Linked DNA regions of Homo sapiens. The protein of the gene in region 1 purifies or fractionates together with the protein of each later gene. This does not show direct contact. Each region holds a gene or a part of one and is shown on either strand. Other genes may lie near its edges.

Region 1 (5,055 bases):
CTCTTCACACTCTACTTCTGCTTTCCAGAGGCAAACACATTACACATATATTACTTTTTTTAAGTGTTGCATAGTATTTCGATATATTGTTCATATTTACTGTTTCCTTCTGAGGAACATTTAGATTGTTTCAGATTTTTAATTAAAATCACTACAATAAATAACCTGTGGCATATGTATACGTTGTGTTTGTATATACACACACACTCCTTTAACAGTATATATGTAGGCTAAAGTCCGTAAGGAAAATGATAATTGCAGACTTGAACTTTTCAAGAACAGTACCAAATTATCTGCTTAAAAGGCTGTATCATTTCATTCTTGCCAACAGTAGTACTTGGTTCAAAGAAGGGTTCATTGCTGTAAGAACACAATACATTGAATTGCCAGGGAGAGGAATGAGCTTACTTTAGCTTCTATTTCTCTAAGGCCTTCCCTAAGTTGGTCTTGCTCCATTTTAAAGATTTCCTCTACTCCTCTTAGGCCATCATTTTCCTTAGTAACAAATCTTACATCCTGAAGGTTTTCATGAAGCTTCTGAGTCAATCTTAATTTCTGCGTTTCTACACTTTCCAGAGTTACATTCCAGGCCTCTAACTGCTTCTTTAACTGACCTGTTTGATACATAGTTTCCCTAAGATCATTTTTTACTTTAAGAAGTTGAGGCTGGGCCTGGCGGCTCATGCCTGTAATCCCAGCACTTTGGGAGGCCGAGGCGGGTGGATCATGAGGTCAGGAGATCGAGACCACCCTGGTCAACACGGTGAAACCTCCTCTCTACTAAAAATACAAAAATTAGCTGGGTGTGATGACATGCATCTGTAATCCTAGTTACTTGGGAGACTTGAGGCAGGAGAATCGCTTGAACCCGGGAGGCAGACATTGCAGTGAGCCGAGATCATGCCGTTGCACTCCAGGCGACAGAGCGAGACTCTGTCTCAAAAAAAAAAAAAAAAAAAAAAAAGAAGTTGATGTTCTTTCTCCTGAAGTTCTTGGATCTTGAGATAATCATACAATAAGTTAGGATTATCAGTAGATATAAAAAGATCAATGATAGTTTCTAAATTGAGTAGGCAAGTAAGTCTTCACTTGCCTTCAATTTTAGGGTAATTCATATCTTGTTTCATTACACAAAAAGTTTGATTCAAACTCTCAGTAACTGAGATAACTTAAAAATAAAATACCTGTGCTTTTAAGGCATCATTTGAGTGTTCTAAGTCCTTTTGCATATTTGATATTTCATTTGTTTTCTCTGAAACAATCCCTCTTAGTTTATCAATAGTTTCTTGGTGCTCCTTCAGATGCATGTGAACAATTTTTAGCTCCTCTTGTTTTTCTAGGTCCTTTATCAATAGAAAAATAAAAATAATACATTGAGAGTAGTACCATCCACATGCTATAGAAAGGTATAGGGCAGGAGGTAAAAATCTTCCACCCTCTTCTGAGGCCTCCTAGTTCTCACCCTCTAAGCTACTTTTAGATGTCAATACATTCTAGATACACTATTCCTGAACTTACCCTGTTCCCTAACAGGACACTTCACCCTTCAAATCAGCACTATAGCTCTACCACATTTTTTATTTGTGGCATAGAATTCCATGACGTGAATGTGCTGCACTTATTTAACCAGTCCCTTACCAATGGATGGTTAGAATTTTCCCTGTTTTTGTTTGTGTTATTTCATTATTGCAACTTGTTGCAAAGAATATCCTACAAATATCTTTATACAGTTGTGCAAATGTGTGGAGGATAGTTACAACTGGACTTGTGGATCAACGAATAAACCTTTGGAAAAATTTGGAAGGTATTTCCAAATATACCCTCACCAACTTTCCTCAATATTGGACCAATTTTATCTTATTTTATTATTTTTTATTTTATTTTACTTTTTGAGATGGAGTCTTGCTCTGTCGCCCAGGCTGGAGTGCAGTGGTGCGATCTTGGCTCACTGCAACCTCCGCCTCCTGGGTTCACGCCATTCTCCTGTCTCAGCCTCCCAAGTAGCTGGGACTACAGGCGCCCACCACCACGCCTGCCTAATTTTTTATGTTTTTAGTAGAGATGGCGTTTCACCATGTTAGCCAGGATGGTCTTGATCTCCTGACCTCGTGATCTGCCCGCCCTGGCCTCCCAAAGTGCTGGGATTACCGGCTCGAGCCACCGCGCCCGGCCTGGACCAATTTTATACTCCCACCAACCCTATGGCAGATTTTTCTCTTAGGACTCAATGTCATAGTTACTAGAGGTGTAGAGAGATGGTAACTCACTCTAGTTATAGTTTCTCTAAGGTTTTCCTTGAGCTGGTCTCTCTCTACTTTGAGAGTCTCCTCCACACTCCTAAGGTCATCTCTTTCTTTTGTTACAGATCTCATTTCTTCAAGGTTTTCATGTAGTATCTGAGTCAACCTTATATTCTCCGTTTCTATGTTTTCCAGGTTTAACTTCTGGGTCTCAAATTGCTCCTTCAAGTGTTCTATTTCACACATTTTCTCCTGAGTCTCATTGACAGCTGTCATCTTAAGAAACTGATATTCTTTTTCTTGAGATTCTTTCATCTGAGAAAATTATAAAGTAAGTTACAACATAGGCAGAATTTTTTTAGGAAAAGGAAGAACTGTTCCTAAAATAAGGCAATCATTTTTACATTGTAATCTAATGTATGTAGTACTTTCTTTCATAAGGGATATGAGTAACAATAATTAGATGTCATTTTCCAATTTAACAAGTCCCACTTTTTCCTGTAATTCACCATCAGAATTTCCTAAATCCCAATGAATATTTGCTACTTGAGCTGTCTTCTCTGAAATATTCTGTCTACTAACAGTTTACTGGTACTCAGTTGAATATAAGCAGTTTTTGATTCCTCTTTTATTTCCGGTCCCTTTATGATTAGAGGAAAATTAATAAAACTTAACATGAACACCGTCATTATCACCTTAACACTATTTCTGTATCCAAAAAAAAAAAAAATAAGATGGGAACTTACTTTAGCTACAATTTCTTTAGTGTTTTCTTTCAGTTGGTCTCTCTCTATCTGAAGGGCCTCCTGTACTCTTTTCATTTCCTCTTTTTCCTTAATCATAATTTGTATTTCTTCTTGACTTTCTTGAAGTCTGTTGGTCAACTCGAGCATCTTACTTTCTATACTTTGTAGTGCTGAATCCTTGGCTTTGCGATGCTCCTTGAATTGTTTCAGTTCATTCACTTTTTCCTGAACCTCACTAATTTGTTTTATATTAAATTGTTCCTCTTTCTCATAAATCTCTTGGATCTTAAACATAATTATAAAATAAGTTAATAGTCATAAAAATATGTAAACACACACACACACATACACAACTTAAGAGGAAAAGGTTGCTTCCCAAAACAATTAAGCATGCCAAATAGTAGTCTTCATAATTCAGTTAGCTACTCCAAACCCACCCATTTCCTCCCACTGTTTCTTCATCCCCAATTTACCTTGTTCTGTAATTTATCATTGATTGCTTCTAACTGCTTTTGAATGGTTGATATTTCAGTTTCCTTCTCTGAAAGATTCACTCTTAACTCATTAATAGTTTCCTCTTGTTCTTTCAGGCAACAATGAGCAACTTTAAGTTCCTCTTCAGTTTCCAGGTGCTTTATTATTAGAGGAAATTCCAATAAATTTATAGAAACATTATAACTATTTTGTTGTAATTAACTCCCCTTTCCAAATATTTAGGGTTTATAATAATATTTGGTTACAAAATATTTTTTAAAAACATGGTGAAAGATGAAACCTACTTTAGCTACAATTTCTTTTATGTTTTCTTTGAGCTGGTCACTTTCAGATTGAAGAACTTCTTGCAGCCTCTGTAGGTCATCTTTCTCCTTAGCTACAGATTTCATTTCATCATGACTTTCTTGAAGTCTTTTGGACAATCCGAGCATTTCTATTTCTATCCTTAGTAGTGCTGAATCTTTGGGTTTGAATTGCTCCATCTCACTCACGATTTTGGTAGTTTCATTGTCTTTTTCTTTCATATTTAAGGACTGTTCTTGTTTGCTTTGAGACTCCTGGATCTTAAGAGAATCATAAAACAGTACAGTTGATATCCAGAGATATTGTGTTTTAGGGGAAAATAAATCAGGATGCTTTCTAAAACAATTAAGGCAGGATTCAGTGCCTCATTTACAGAGCAATCTCTCCATTCTCCCACTCTTCCATTATTCAGGCATTTAATGCTTTTTAAAAATTGAGGTCTCACTGTGTTGTCAGCATCTTATTCGAGGCTGGAGACAAAATGATGAGACTTACAGGATCTCTCTCTTTTTGAGACTTATACTTCAAGGACAAAGATAGATATGATGTTGAATCTTACCAAATAGAGATGCTGGCTTCTCCTACGGCCCAAGTGTCAAATATAATCTATTGTGAATGATAGGAAGGGATTCCTAGAGGAGAAAGCTTTAACTGAGATCTGAAGGATAAGAGCATTAGTTAGGCAAAAAGGAGTATGGAGGTACTGCAGGTAGAGAGACCTGAGAATCTGAAAGCCATGAGCTGCGGAAGAGAGTTGCTGGAGAACAAAGAATAGGAAGAAGAATGAATTGAAATAAGACCGGCAAGATCTGCACCTAGGGCCTCATAGGCCACATAAAGGATCCTGGTCTTTATTTAAAAAGTAGCAATAAGATATTAAAAGAATGTAAGAAAGGATAACTTAGGCTTAGTATAGAAACTGGATTAGAGAAGTCTAAGAATGAGTGTGGGAAGACCAGTTAGGAGACTACTGCAGATAGCCAGGGAAAGAAATGATGTTGACTTGGATTAGGGTGGTGGCAGTGTGGAGAGAAAAGCAGGATGACTTTTAAAATACACACTCAAATCAATAAGATTTGGTGACTGGATTACAGAATAAGCAGAGAAGGAGGCATATTAGTAGGGATAGCTCCCAGATTTCTGACTAAAACAATGAGAAAGCACAGTAGTGCTTTATGAAACATTAAAGGAACAGGTTTAAAAAAGAAAATAAAACAATCTCATATTTGGTTTCACCCTTTCTTGTAATTTAGAATTATTTTTTCTAAATT
Region 2 (4,277 bases), on another chromosome or scaffold:
TAATTGAGTAGCTATTATGTTTTGATATTGTAGAAAGAATAGAAATGTTCAAACTTAAAGGGGTTTACATTTTAACGGTTTAGTTTTACAAAGAACTTTCATTTGATATAATAAAGGAAATACAATAGAAATCTATTTTTGTAAGCCCATCTGATGATAATTTATATATATATATAGTGTTGAGATCACGGAAGGTTATTTTTGTTCCCTGTTCGGATTTCATGTGTGTGCCTCTGTATCTCCATAAACAATAGAAGCTCAGGAGGAAGGGCCGCGTCCACTCCTTTTGCTCATGTCATTGTGATGCCTCACTCTTTGCCTGTCTCACGGTAGGCACTGGAGATAGATTTACACATGAATAAATAAATAAATAAGACTCATGCCCAATACAGTTTTTGTCTAAAGACACATATAATGTTTAAGGCAAAATTGCAAACAGAGCAGAATTGGATAGCACGCACCATACTTTAAAATCAAGTGTTCTTTCTGTATTGGTAGCCACATAAAGCAAAATGCAAGAAAGATGAACTTTAATCAGGCACAGGAAGAGACTTGGAAGTTATTCTTTGTCTCTCTTTCCATTAAAATCCCTTCCTTCACACCAATGTGGTTGTTGTTTCTCTTTTATGATGTAAGAAGATAGATTTTTTTTATTAGTGGCAATGACAAAAAGATTTATTTCAGTTGGTGTAAAATATGCACAAAGGGAGACTTTAAACAATGATGTTTTGCAATTTTTACAATTAAGCAATTAGTGTTTCTCTCCATACTCTAAAACACAGTCACAAACCAACATTCTTTTTCATTGCCTCCCAAAGAATTTGTGCTCTCAGAGGTTTAGTGAAGATTTCTTTCTCTACATGATTTTTGTAATGTTTATATTAGACTGCTGCTGTTCTAGAGCTGGGGAGTCTTTTAATATTTCAACTTTCTCTATTTGAATAAACGCTTTTGTGCTTTACCTCTTGAGTCTGTCATCCCTCTACGTCGTGTGCATATATTAGACATCTGCACAAACACACAAGTGCACATGTTAACGGCATGCCTTCTATTCATTACCCACATACAAGAGCCCCTGTCATGATTTAACTTCCCTGAAGCAAAAATTTGATTAAAAACTCAGGTGATTACATAAAATTATATGAACTCTCACATTTGTTATACTTAAAAACAAAGAACCTTAACTTCCTAAATGGCTAATAAATATTTCCCTGCAGGTCAGTCAGTGCTGAATATATACCCATCTTTAGTTCCTGAGAGTGAAACAGTATAAGGATGTTGGAATAATGCTTTGCTACACATCAAAGCTATTATACTTCTAGAGGCAACAGCTTTTGCTCTCAGTTCAGTATCACTCAGGGCTGTCAAAGTTTCTACATTCCTCATGCTACTGTCTTGGAGTTTTTTCAAAAGCTACTGCTTATCCTAGTACTTTTCCTAGAACTCCAACAATGATGTTTATCTCAAAATTATTTCTTCTTCAGAAAAAATTGGCATAGAATTCTGAGAATTTTCAAAATTTCTCCTTGAGCCATGTATTTTGGATTGAAAACTCTGTTAGAATTCTTTGAGAGCCTGGATAGTCCTTTAAAAAGGTTATCTGTAGTAGTAACATTTAGAATTGAAGCATGAATAAAATATCTTTGTGTCTGTGGTTAAATTAGGCTACCTATGTTTTTCTTTACCTAAGGAATAGTAAAAGGTATTGTTTTTTAATAAAACAAATCATTTGTAGATCCCCAAATTTATAAAAACAATGTCCTTTTTAATTGTACACATCAGATAGTGTCTGAGCTTGTATATACTTTACATTTCTGTCCTCAGTCCTGAACACAGTCTAACACAAAGAGGGCAGGTACTTCCTTAAAGAATGTGGCTATTTTCACAGCTATAAGCCCAATGCAAGCACAGCATCTGCTCCAGACAGGGATGAGTGAACCCAGCCAGACTTGGGGTTTGGAGGAGGTCAGAATCTATTCTACTGATGTTTCTGTCATGTTTATTAAATTGCATTTTTTTCCCAAATGCAATTACACTTTTAGGAAATATTGCAATTATTTTAAAGAGAGGACATTTTTATACTTCCGGTGGACTTAAACTAATAAAACCTGCTTTTTGTTTAATCATTATCAGCGCCCTAGGTATATGCTTTGAGCTCTCCTGCTATGGGTCTCAAGTCCTGCTTCTTAGCAACAGTAAGGACCCTCTACTCGTTTGTTTTTAGCCATAAGAAGAGATTTGACTTGGGTTAGCATTTTCAGGTAGGAGGAGGCTCCAGTTTCTGAGAACTGAGCTCCCCATCCTATTTTAATACCACCTTTGAGAAGACGTATTTGAGAAATCACATCAGACATTAGGGAAATGATGAGGCAGAGCTTCTGTCTGTCGGCAGTGGGAAACAAGAATCAAAGACTTCATCTCAAATAAATGGAGCAGCACAGATTAATTAAATCGATAAATTCTCCAAAGCACATCCTGGTTAAGGGGTTTAAAGGAATTCTTTCCATTATGTGCAAATCACCTGAAGGTGTTGAGCTATCATTTGGGCATAAGATTCACTCCATCTATTAGAGGCCCTAGAGAAGTGGGTTTACAAATAGATTCTGAGCAATGTTCATTTTATTTATGATCCAAATGGCAAAACAACAGCCACAGAGAGAAACCTGGATCTGTTTTGCAAATGAGTGATCTGTTGCTGGCACCGTTAAAAAGACGTGCAGTGATGAACGTGGCCAGATTTGAGTTAGAGATCCGTAGGAGTGAGACGGTACTTAACACCAAAAATAATAACTGCCCCCTTTCACCTTTGCATCCCCACTGCTGGGTTTCTCTTTCTGATCCGTGGGAGATTTTGCTTGTACACAGTGTGGCCCTCTTCCGCGTGAGGCTTCAGCTGGTGTGACCATTTGCATCAGAACTGAATTAGCTGTTTAGTTACACAAACACGAGGGTCCTAGTTGCCCTCTGCCTTGGAAGCAGCTCAACGAAGCCACCTGAATGCCACAATTTTAAGTGTACACAGCTGAAAAAACTTTCAAAAATTTCACCTCTTAGAGAGTTGAAATAAATTTCCTTAAAATCTAAGTCACCTGAGCATTTATATCATCTTTCTCTTCGAACTTAAGCACACATGTTACTCTTCTTTTTTTATAGGAATGCATGATTTATTGGACACTATTTCTTAAGTATAAAATCCCCTCCTTAATATAAATATGGAATTTAGATGATCTGTTCTGCTATGTTTTCAGATTAAAAAACTGAACGTTAACTATTGATCATTTTTGTAATTTAAAACAGATGATACTAAATTCCAATATATATGTATTTTATAACCCAAAGAGGACTTACCAGACATTTTCCTGCCAGAAACTAGATACTAACTGTATTCATTCACCATCAATAAAATAATACAATGTAATTATTTTGCTGCTCTTCCTACTCAATACCTATGACTAGAATAAAAGGTGATTAAATATCCACAGTGCATATGGAGGGCCTGGGAAATTCAGATTAACTCTTTATTTCCAAATATAGATCGTTCTTCAGAAAAGTCTGCTATCTTTGCAAATGACCAAATTTTAGGGGCTGGAGGGAGATTGTGGATCTCTTGAAAAGCAAACATGTCAGTTTCTAAGTTGCTAATATTTGGATGTGGTTTCCGGGAAAATGGATTCACTCATAAACTTGCAGATGGAGATTCAGGGCCTACGAGCCCTGTTTGCTAGGGCGTTGCTTAAACAATGTCAGGCAAGCAATCAGATAAAATAGCCCCGTCCTCCATTCCTTTTAAATCAAATAAACGAGTAAATAAAAGCCCAATTTTAATTGCTGAACAGGGATGTCTTGATACTAAGACAGTAACATATGCAAGCAGAGAGGAGTTCTGGCTCCAAGGTCCTAAATTTCTCAATGTTCCCTTCCCTTCCTGTTTTCTAAAGTCTCACCAGAGCACGTTAGCTGTCCCTGTGAACCAAAAATTTTATAAGCATTGTTTCTTCTCTTTTTGAATGTAATGTCTCTATTTGATATTGGTATGTTCTTAATTGAGTTATATCAAAAGCTAGGAATAAACAATCGCCTTTGAAAAATCAAGTATTAAGCAGCCTCTGTTTCTCTGAGTGGAGAAAAAACTTTTAATTGTACAGATAGAGGTTAATTTAGTTTCATTCTATTTGCAAATACTTAACAACACGAATCAGGTTCTCGGCCACACACCAGGCAGAGTGCAGCCCCTGCTGCTTTTCTTGAGCTATCCTAACCACAGAGACGGCATCAAC
Region 3 (4,277 bases), on another chromosome or scaffold:
AGGACTTTACCAAGAAACTAACATTTACACTTTCTGACGGAACTGAAATACACTGAATTACAGGCATATTCACTGAAACAACAAAAAAAATTCTGTCCATGTAAAGGCTATATTTTTTACCCCCAAAAAAGTGTTTCAATTCTGATACTCACACCACAACTGGTTAAGAAAATAAAGCGCAGTGTTTAGCAACTGAGCATCCTAACTACCGTAAGAGGCACTCTGTGCTCACCCCTTCCTGGCAACCGCTGAGGTCAGCAAGGCCAGGAGCAAGGAGAGCCTCCTATTTTTCAACACAAGCTGCTGCCGTCTCCTTATTAAAGCCCCGGATGGAGAGATCATAGACCACTTCCTCTACTTTCTTCACGTCATATTTCAATCCGTCGTAGCGCTTCCTCAGGGAGTCATTTTTCAGGTTGAGAAGGCGAAAACCGGAATCCAGCTCATTGATGAAGGTGGAGATGTGGAGGGGTCGGGAGTAGTCTCCAGCAGTCACGCTGTTGACAGACAGCCTCGACTGTACCAGGAAAGAGAAAACAGGGGCTTGTTACAACATGGCTCCTTCTCAGCGCATCTTCCTCTGAATCACAACCAGAAGAACCGCAAGCCTAGACAGCCACGCTGATCTTCTATCTCAGGGTACACACAAGTACAGACAAGACAGGAGCTTCTCTGAAAAGAATCCCACTGAAAATGAGACCAGTTCTGCCAAGTAAAATTTAACATTACTAACATCTAAAATTTCTCTAATTTCTTAAACTGGCTATTGCATAATAAAGTGTTACATTACACAAGCATCTTTACAGCTCATCTGCTATCATATCGAAGAAAGAAACGACAAAATAATCACAGCAGCTCCACTACCTCTTCCAACCTTGGCCAAATGATCACATTTCTAGAGCCCACCTACTAAGCTGCAACTCCAGTCACCTAGAATCAAGTAAGGCAGACTTGGGATAAGAATCTAAAATTATGTTAGTGTAACCCTGTCTTGAAGGAGAACTAACATTGATTTCAAGACCCAACCCAAGACTCCCCTTCTCGGTGTCAGTATACAACCCCCTACTGCTCCATTTGACTGGCTTTAAAAAATATATTAAAATAATAAAAAAGATTCCCCTTTCTGTAAAATCCTCTCCACTTTTCCAGGCTTACCCCTTTAGTGCACTGTCAACATACGGGTTTTTTGTTTGTTTGTTTGTTTTTAATATAGAGAAGGGGTCTTGCTTTGTTGCTTAGGCTGGTGTGGAACTCCTGGCCTCAAGGGATCCTCCCACCTTGGTCTCCAAAACTGCCAGCATTACAAGCGTAAGCGACTGTGCCCGGCCCCAACATGTATGGTCCTAAAGACACCTTACACTTAACTAATACTAACAAGATGCTTCCTGTTTACTGGTCAGGTGTCTCCAACAAGCCAGACAAGTGGTACAGCCTACAAGTGGACCCCATCATCCATTCTCACCATCTTCCTCAGGTTTTCAATGCACACATACCCACTCCAATAGACTCCATTTCTGCCTCCCTGCAGGCAAGGCACCAGAATGTTAACAGAAGTTGTGTGTACAACTTCAAAGAAATGTCCTTAAAGCGGGAGGGCATACCATTTTCCCTATTTCCTCCTACTGCTGGCTAGAGTGAAGATGTGACTAGAGCAACAGTTCTGGAACATAAGAAAGAAGCTGAAGCTAGAAGAACCTAGGGCCAAAGATCAAGGAATCATCAGACCAGCCCTGGACTGCTTTCCTCTGGAGCAAGGACAAGCAAACTTTTTCTTAACGAGCCAGATAGTAAATATTTTCACCTCTGCAGACTGGCACAGTCTCTATCACAACTACTCAATTTTGCTACTGACAGCTTTTTTTTTCTTTAGACTTTTACAGGGCAATTTCCCTAGATAGTGGTTAAAGGAATAAAGGATAAGAATAACTTAGTTATATAGACAAATGAGTGTCCAAAACAATTACATGGATTAACAGTTACCAGGAATAAATGTTTTGCCACTACCCTAAAAGGAAGAGGTCTTATCATCGGTTAAAAATTCTTAACTCAGTAAGTATGCACTCATCATTTGATCTGGCTTTTCTCTGATGCCTAGTAAATTGTAACACATACAGTGCCAGTCAGTGACTACCTGGTGACCGAGAGATGGCTTAGAAAAGAATTAAGACGTTCTGAATTTTGGTACCCATTTTAAAAACAGACAGTGGGCCAGGCACAGTGGCTCACGCCTATAATCCCAGCACTCTGGGAGGCCAAGGTGGGCGGATCACGAGGTCAGGAGATCGAGACCATCCTGGCTAACACGGTGAAACCCCGTCTCTACTAAAAATACAAAAAAAAATTAGCCGGGTGTGGTGGCGGGCGCCTGTAGTCCCAGCTACTCAGGAGGCTGAGGCAGGAGAATGGCATGAACTCGGGAGGCGGAGCTTGCAGTGAGCCGAGATTGCGCCACTGCACTCCAGCCTAGGCGACAGAGCGGGACTCTGTCTCAAAAAAAAAAAAAAAAAAAAAAACTGACAGTGAAGCAGAAAGATCAAAAAAGCAACCAGCAAGTTACTGAGCTTACCAGTTCACTGGCAAGAATTAGAACTCCTGAGAGATAATCTTCTACATCCAGATGAAATCCTTTCTCCCGATCTGGCTCAACTAAAAAACACATGAAAATAAAGTCATGCTGTGAATGCAAGTTAAGCCTCAGAATATAAAAATATACACATAATTTCTCCCAAAGTAAGTGAAGAAAGGATGAATCTTTTAAAAACTGGCTTTTTAATATATTCACAACCTTGGCAACTAGACCTCACTATGGATTTTTTGAGTTCTTAAGCAAAATTCAATTCAGTCTTCCCTCAAAAATACTATCAAAAACAGTATCTAGTTGTGTCACAGAATATACTTCTTGTTAGAAAGCACATGATAAAGCATTTCAGAAAGGAGTTACGATATTTGCAACTTTCAAATGGCTGACAAAGACACACACAAAATGAGAAGATTAAGCAGATGTAGCAAAATGTTAACAAGTGGTAAATCTAAGTGGCATGTAAACAGGTATTCATTGTACTATTCTTTCAATTTTTCTGTAGGCTTGAAATTTTTAAAAATTCAATTTTAAAAACTAAAGCAAGTGCAAATGTGTTTGCCATTGTTATTTTTAGCTTTTACATTTCCAGGTAGAGTCGGCCCTCTGCGCTAACCAACTATGGATAGAAAATATTTGGGAAAAGGCCAGGCGTGGTGGCTCATGCCTGTAATCCCAGCACTTTGGGAGGCCAAGGCGGGCAAATCACGAGGTCAGGAGTTCAAGACCAGCCTGGCCAACATGGTGAAACCCTGTTTCTACTAAAAAAATACAAAAAATTGGCTGAGTGCGGTCACTCACGCCTGTAATCCCAGCACTTTGGGAGGCTGAGGCAGGCGGATCACCTGAGGTCAGGAGTTCAAGACTAGCCCGACCAACATGGAGAAACCTCATCTCTACTAAAAATACAAAATTAGCCGGGTGTGGTGGTGCATGCCTGTAATTCCAGCTACTCAGGAGGCTGAGGTAGGAGAAATGCTTGAACCCAGGAGGTGGAGGTTGTGGTGAGCTGAGATTGCGTCATTGCACTACAGCCTGGGCAACAAGAGCAAAACTCCATTTCGGAAAAAAAAAAAAAATACAAAAAATTAGCTGGGCATAGTGGCAGGCACCTGTAATCCCAGCTACTCGGGAGGCTGAGGCAGGAGAATCACTTGAACCTGGGAGGTGGAGGTTGCAGTGAGCGGAGATTGCACCACTGCACTCCAGCCTGGGCGACAGAGACTCTGTCTCAAAAAAAAAAAAATATTTACATAGCACTTATACTGTATTAGATATTTTAAGAAATCTAGAGATGATTTAAAGTATGTGGGAGAATGTGTATAGGTTATATGCAAATACTACACCAGTTATATAAGGGACTTGAACATCCTCAGATTTGGGTATTGGAAGAGCTCTGGAAGCATCATCCTCAGATACCAAGCTACAACTATAAGTGGTTTTTAGTTAATTCTTGTTTGTTTTAATAAACAAAGTACAACCACCCTTTCCACCAAAAAGTAAGCAACCATGCCTGATTCTGCAGATCCCACTAATAAAGACACTTACTGCCAAGAATTTCTGTAACTGCTTCTCGAGTCACTAGTGTTTCTGTTTCCAAATACACAACAAATGCTGCCAAGAAGACCAAGCGCTGCAACACAAACCTCCAGTGCTCATGAAATCTGCATGAAAATAAGCACATTTAGCCTCCAAGGTT
Region 4 (4,277 bases), on another chromosome or scaffold:
GTGATTCTCCTGCCTCAGCCTCCCGAGTAGCTGGGACTACAGGCATGTGCCACCATGCCCGGCTAATTTTTGTATTTTTAGTAGAGATGGGGTTTCACCATGTAGGCCAGGCTGGTCTCGAACTCCTGACCTCAGGTGATCCACCCGCCTCGGCCTCCCAAAGTGCTGGGATTACAGGCGTGAGCCACCGTGCCCGGCCACCTGACTTGTTTATCACTCTAACAACAGCCCCTAGAACAGCACCTGTCATACAGTGGCACTCGGTAGATATTGCTGAATGCACAAATGAACCCCCAGAATATTTTCTGTGTGCCTTCCTTAGGGCCCTTTATACTTTCAGAATTATAGCATAGGAATGTGCTCTAATTTTTTTAAACAAAAATGTTTTAATAAACCACCGTCTGCTTTTTTTAATTTGTATTTATTTATTTTTTTGAGACAGTACCTTACTCTGTCACCCAGGCTGGAGTGCAATGATGAGATCTCAGCTCATTGCAGCCTCGACATCCTGGGATCAAGTGATTCTCCTGCCTCAGCTCCCCAAGTAGCTGGGACTACAGATGTATGCCACCATGCTCAGCTAATTTTTGTATTTTTTTTTGTAGAGACAGGGTTTCACCATGTTGCTTAGGCTGGTCTCAAACTCAGGTGGGCGCAAGTGATCCGCCCACCTCAGTCTCTCAAAGTGCTGGGATTACAGGCATGTGCTTTGATTTTATAAAGAGACGCCACTAATATTTCCCCTTTTTAGGGTAGGTAATACATTCACATAGTCTAAAAATTTATTTATTCATTCATTTTTATTTTATTTTTACTTTTCTGAGACAGGGTCTTGCTCTGTTGCCCAGGCTGGCATGCAGTGGCACCATCATAGCTCACTGCAGCCTCAACCTCCTGGGCTCAAGTCATCCTCCCACCTCGGCCTCCCAAATATCTGGACTATCGGTGTGCGCCACCACACTTAGCCAATTTTTTTTTTTTTTTGTATTTTTTGTAGAGAAGGGGTCTCCCTGTGTTGCCCAGGCTGGTCTCAAACTCCTGGGCCCAAGTGATACTCTGGCCTTGGCTTCCTAAAATGCTGAGATTATAGGCATGAGCCACTATACCTGGCCCTAAAAATTAAAACATAAAAAGGTATACAGTAAAAAGTGTCACCCCATCCCTGATTACTCTGTATCACAATCAGTTTCTTCTATCTCCTCCCAGGATTTCTTCCTAGTTTTACTTAAATACTCATTTTAAAATTCACATCTTTTAACACTAGAAAAGTAACAAATTGAGCTAGTTTCACCAATGACTACTGTAGAACATTGCATTCTTTTATTTTATCTGCACAAGACCACAATGAGACAAGCATTGCTTGCCTGTGTTTTACAGAAGAAGAAACGGAGGTTCAGAGATATATAAGGAACTGCCCCAAGGTTGCAAAGCCAAGGGTGACAAAGCTGGAGTCAGAACTGTTCTTTCTGGGGTCTCTAGTCCATGCTCAAGTGGTCTACTCATCCCAAAAGGTCTCTTTGGGACATAAGGGGCAGGAACAAGGTCATCATGGGTCGGGGTTCAGTCTGGGATTTGAGGTCCTGAGATCAGGCTGAGTTCAGTCCCCTATTAATCTATAAGATCACCATAGGCAACCATTTCTCTTTCTATCCCCAGTGGCCAGCTGGCACACAGTTGATGCTCAATTTATAATTGTTGAATAATAAATGAACAAATGCTGCATGAACAAATGCATTGACAGACAGGTGGATGGATCAGCCTGTGACCAGCAACATCAGTGGCTAAGAAAATTCCTCCCTCCATTGCCCCTCTCCTCCCTACTGTGGGAAGCTAATTAGTTCTTGAGGAATCTGACCCTGCCCTCCCCTCCCTTGCCCTCATTAGCACTGGCCATGGCATGCTGAGTCTGTCTCCAGGGACAGTCTTTCCAGGCATCTTGCCAGCGAGGCTCTGAATTCATGGACTCTCAGAGCTGGAAGAATTCTGACAGAGGAGGTATTTCATCACCACCCTGTTTTATAGGTGGGAAACAGAGATCCAGAGAGTAGCCCAGGGTAGAGCCGGGTGACCCCACATGGGACCCGCAGGGAGGCCCACACAGAGCAAAGAAGCTGTGACCAGCAGCGTCACAGCAGCTCCACTGGGGCAGCCACAGGTTTTCTGGCCCCAACCTCCTTCTTCCCTCCTCCATCGAACCTGGTTTTCCCCTAACCTATTAGAAACAGTGAAAGCACACAGCCTATCCCACCCACCCATGATATTACTCCCCCCGAGTAGGACTCTTCTCCTGCCTGGATCACCCTATCTATTAAAGATGTCTATTAGCCATCTATTAGCCAGGCTGCTCCCCTGGGAGGAGCCTAAGGGATGGGGTGCCAGCCACACTGGAGGGCTCTGAGAGGTTGCTCAGCTCATGCTGTGTCTGTCTCCCCTGCTCTGCTTAGAAACCAGGCCTCCTGGCCTGAATCCAAGCTCTGCCATTTGCTAGCCGTGTGACCTTGGCAAGTTACTGTACCTCTCAGAGCCACAGTCTCCTTAACTTGACATGAGTGTTGGGAGGCCACAAAGAGATCATGAAAATGCCAAGGCCTGACTGCCATGAAGCCCAGGTGGACAGACAGAGGGCTCATGCTATCCTGGCATAAGCTGGCAATTGGTCACCCCATTCCACTCCCTGGAAAAGGTCAGATACTCTTCTAGCACAGGGGATTGACTGAAGGTCAAATAGCAGGAGATTCCAGAGCTACACGGAGGCAGAGCTTACTGCCCCAAAACACAGAACCTCGGAATCTCAGAGGTGGCTGTCACCAAGTCCAATTCCCACACAATTCTTGCATCTTCAAAACAACATGCTGAGTGTGCAAGTCTCTGCTGACATACTCAGGTGACGAGCTCACTCCCCCGGGAGGTGTCTTCCACTAATTAACATTCCTCAGCTAGAAAGTTCCTCCTTACATTCACTTCCAATCACTTTTTTTTTTTTTTTTTTCTGAGACAGGGTCTTGCTCTGTCGCTGGAGGGCAGTGGCACCATCATGGTTCACTGTAGCCTCAACCTTCCAGGATCAAGTAATCCTCCCACCTCAGCCTCCTGAGTAACTGGGACTATAGGCATATGCCACTATGCCTGGCTAATTTTTGTATTTTTTGTAGAGACAGGATTTCACTATGTTGCCCAGGCTGATCTTGAACTCCTGAGCTCAAGTGATCCACCCACCTCAGCCTCCCAAAGTGCTGGGATTACAGGCGTGAGCCACCACGTCCAGCCATCATCCGCTTTCTTGATGTGGTTCTGCCTCCCCAGGCTGCACAGAGAAAAAGTCTTCTCAGCCGGGCGCGGTGGCTCGCGCCTGTAATCCTAGCATTTTGGGGGGCCAAGGCAGGTGGATCACGAGGTCAGGAGTTCGAGACCAGCCTGGCCAATATGGTGAAACCCCATCTCTACTAAAAATACAAAAATTAGCCAAGCGTGGTGGCGGGCGCCTGTAATCCCAGCTACTTGGGAGGCTGAGGCAAAAGAATCGCTTGAACTAGGGAGGCAGAGGTTGCGGTGAGCCGAGATCACGCCACTGCACTGCAGCCTGGGCAACAGAGCGACATTCCATCTCAACAACAACAACAAAAAGTTTTCTCTTTCATTCCAGCCTGACAGCCCTGCAGAGATTTGCAGATACATCAGATCCCCTTGGGACAGGGTCAGGATAAACATCTCTAGTCCTGCCAGTGTTTCTTATGACACAGTTGCAGCAATAGTAGCTAATATTGATTGGTCACTTACTGTACACCTATACACAGACTTTACTCATATTATTTAATTTCCAAAACAAACCTACAAATCACAAACTATTATTATGCACACTTTATTGATGAGAAATCTACGGCTCAGAGAGGTAAAGTGAGCTGCCCACGATCACAGAGCCAGAAGGAGTAGAGCTCTGTTCACACCTGGCTCTACGTTACTGCAGAGAGCACCAGGCTCCTGGCTGGCCGGTTCCCACCTTGCAAGGCTCATAGAAAGCACTTCAGTGTTTGATTACTCCAGACCTCTCAATGCCCCTGCATTTTTCTGCTTTTCTCCTTACTGGCTCTAGAAGGCCATGGGTTTAGAAAATCCTCAAATGTCAGAATATGAAGGGCCTTTAGAAATAAGCTGGCCTGGGAGGCCCAGCCAAGGAAGAGGTCAGAGAGGAGGATGTGAGCCCAAGACCAGGTCAGCTGACTCTCAGTGAGGCTCCATGCACAACCTGGGCTGCCGCTAAGATCCCATCACCACCACCT

The links. The genes of interacting proteins can lie anywhere in the genome.
Region 2: the proteins of CENPE (region 1) and ADARB2 purify together in Homo sapiens (affinity purification with mass spectrometry; one large-scale study listed by BioGRID and IntAct). This does not show direct contact.
Region 3: the proteins of CENPE (region 1) and TSN fractionate together in Homo sapiens (co-fractionation; one large-scale study listed by BioGRID). This does not show direct contact.
Region 4: the proteins of CENPE (region 1) and SYNPO purify together in Homo sapiens (affinity purification with mass spectrometry; one large-scale study listed by BioGRID and IntAct). This does not show direct contact.

Annotation. Positions count from the first base shown.
Region 1 is NC_000004.12:103,142,064-103,147,118, forward strand, and holds part of CENPE (centromere-associated protein E isoform 1 precursor), read right to left. Parts: intron 4,045-5,055; coding exon 3,766-4,044; intron 3,619-3,765; coding exon 3,460-3,618; intron 3,272-3,459; coding exon 2,987-3,271; intron 2,556-2,986; coding exon 2,268-2,555; intron 1,344-2,267; coding exon 1,185-1,343; intron 1-1,184. UniProt on the Homo sapiens protein: Microtubule plus-end-directed kinetochore motor which plays an important role in chromosome congression, microtubule-kinetochore conjugation and spindle assembly checkpoint activation.
Region 2 is NC_000010.11:1,727,526-1,731,802, forward strand, and holds part of ADARB2 (double-stranded RNA-specific editase B2), read right to left. Parts: intron 1-4,277.
Region 3 is NC_000002.12:121,761,374-121,765,650, reverse strand, and holds part of TSN (translin), read right to left. Parts: intron 4,243-4,277; coding exon 4,127-4,242; intron 2,647-4,126; coding exon 2,567-2,646; intron 518-2,566; coding exon 284-517; 3' UTR 1-283. UniProt on the Homo sapiens protein: DNA-binding protein that specifically recognizes consensus sequences at the breakpoint junctions in chromosomal translocations, mostly involving immunoglobulin (Ig)/T-cell receptor gene segments.
Region 4 is NC_000005.10:150,642,883-150,647,159, reverse strand, and holds part of SYNPO (synaptopodin), read right to left. Parts: intron 1-4,277. UniProt on the Homo sapiens protein: Actin-associated protein that may play a role in modulating actin-based shape and motility of dendritic spines and renal podocyte foot processes.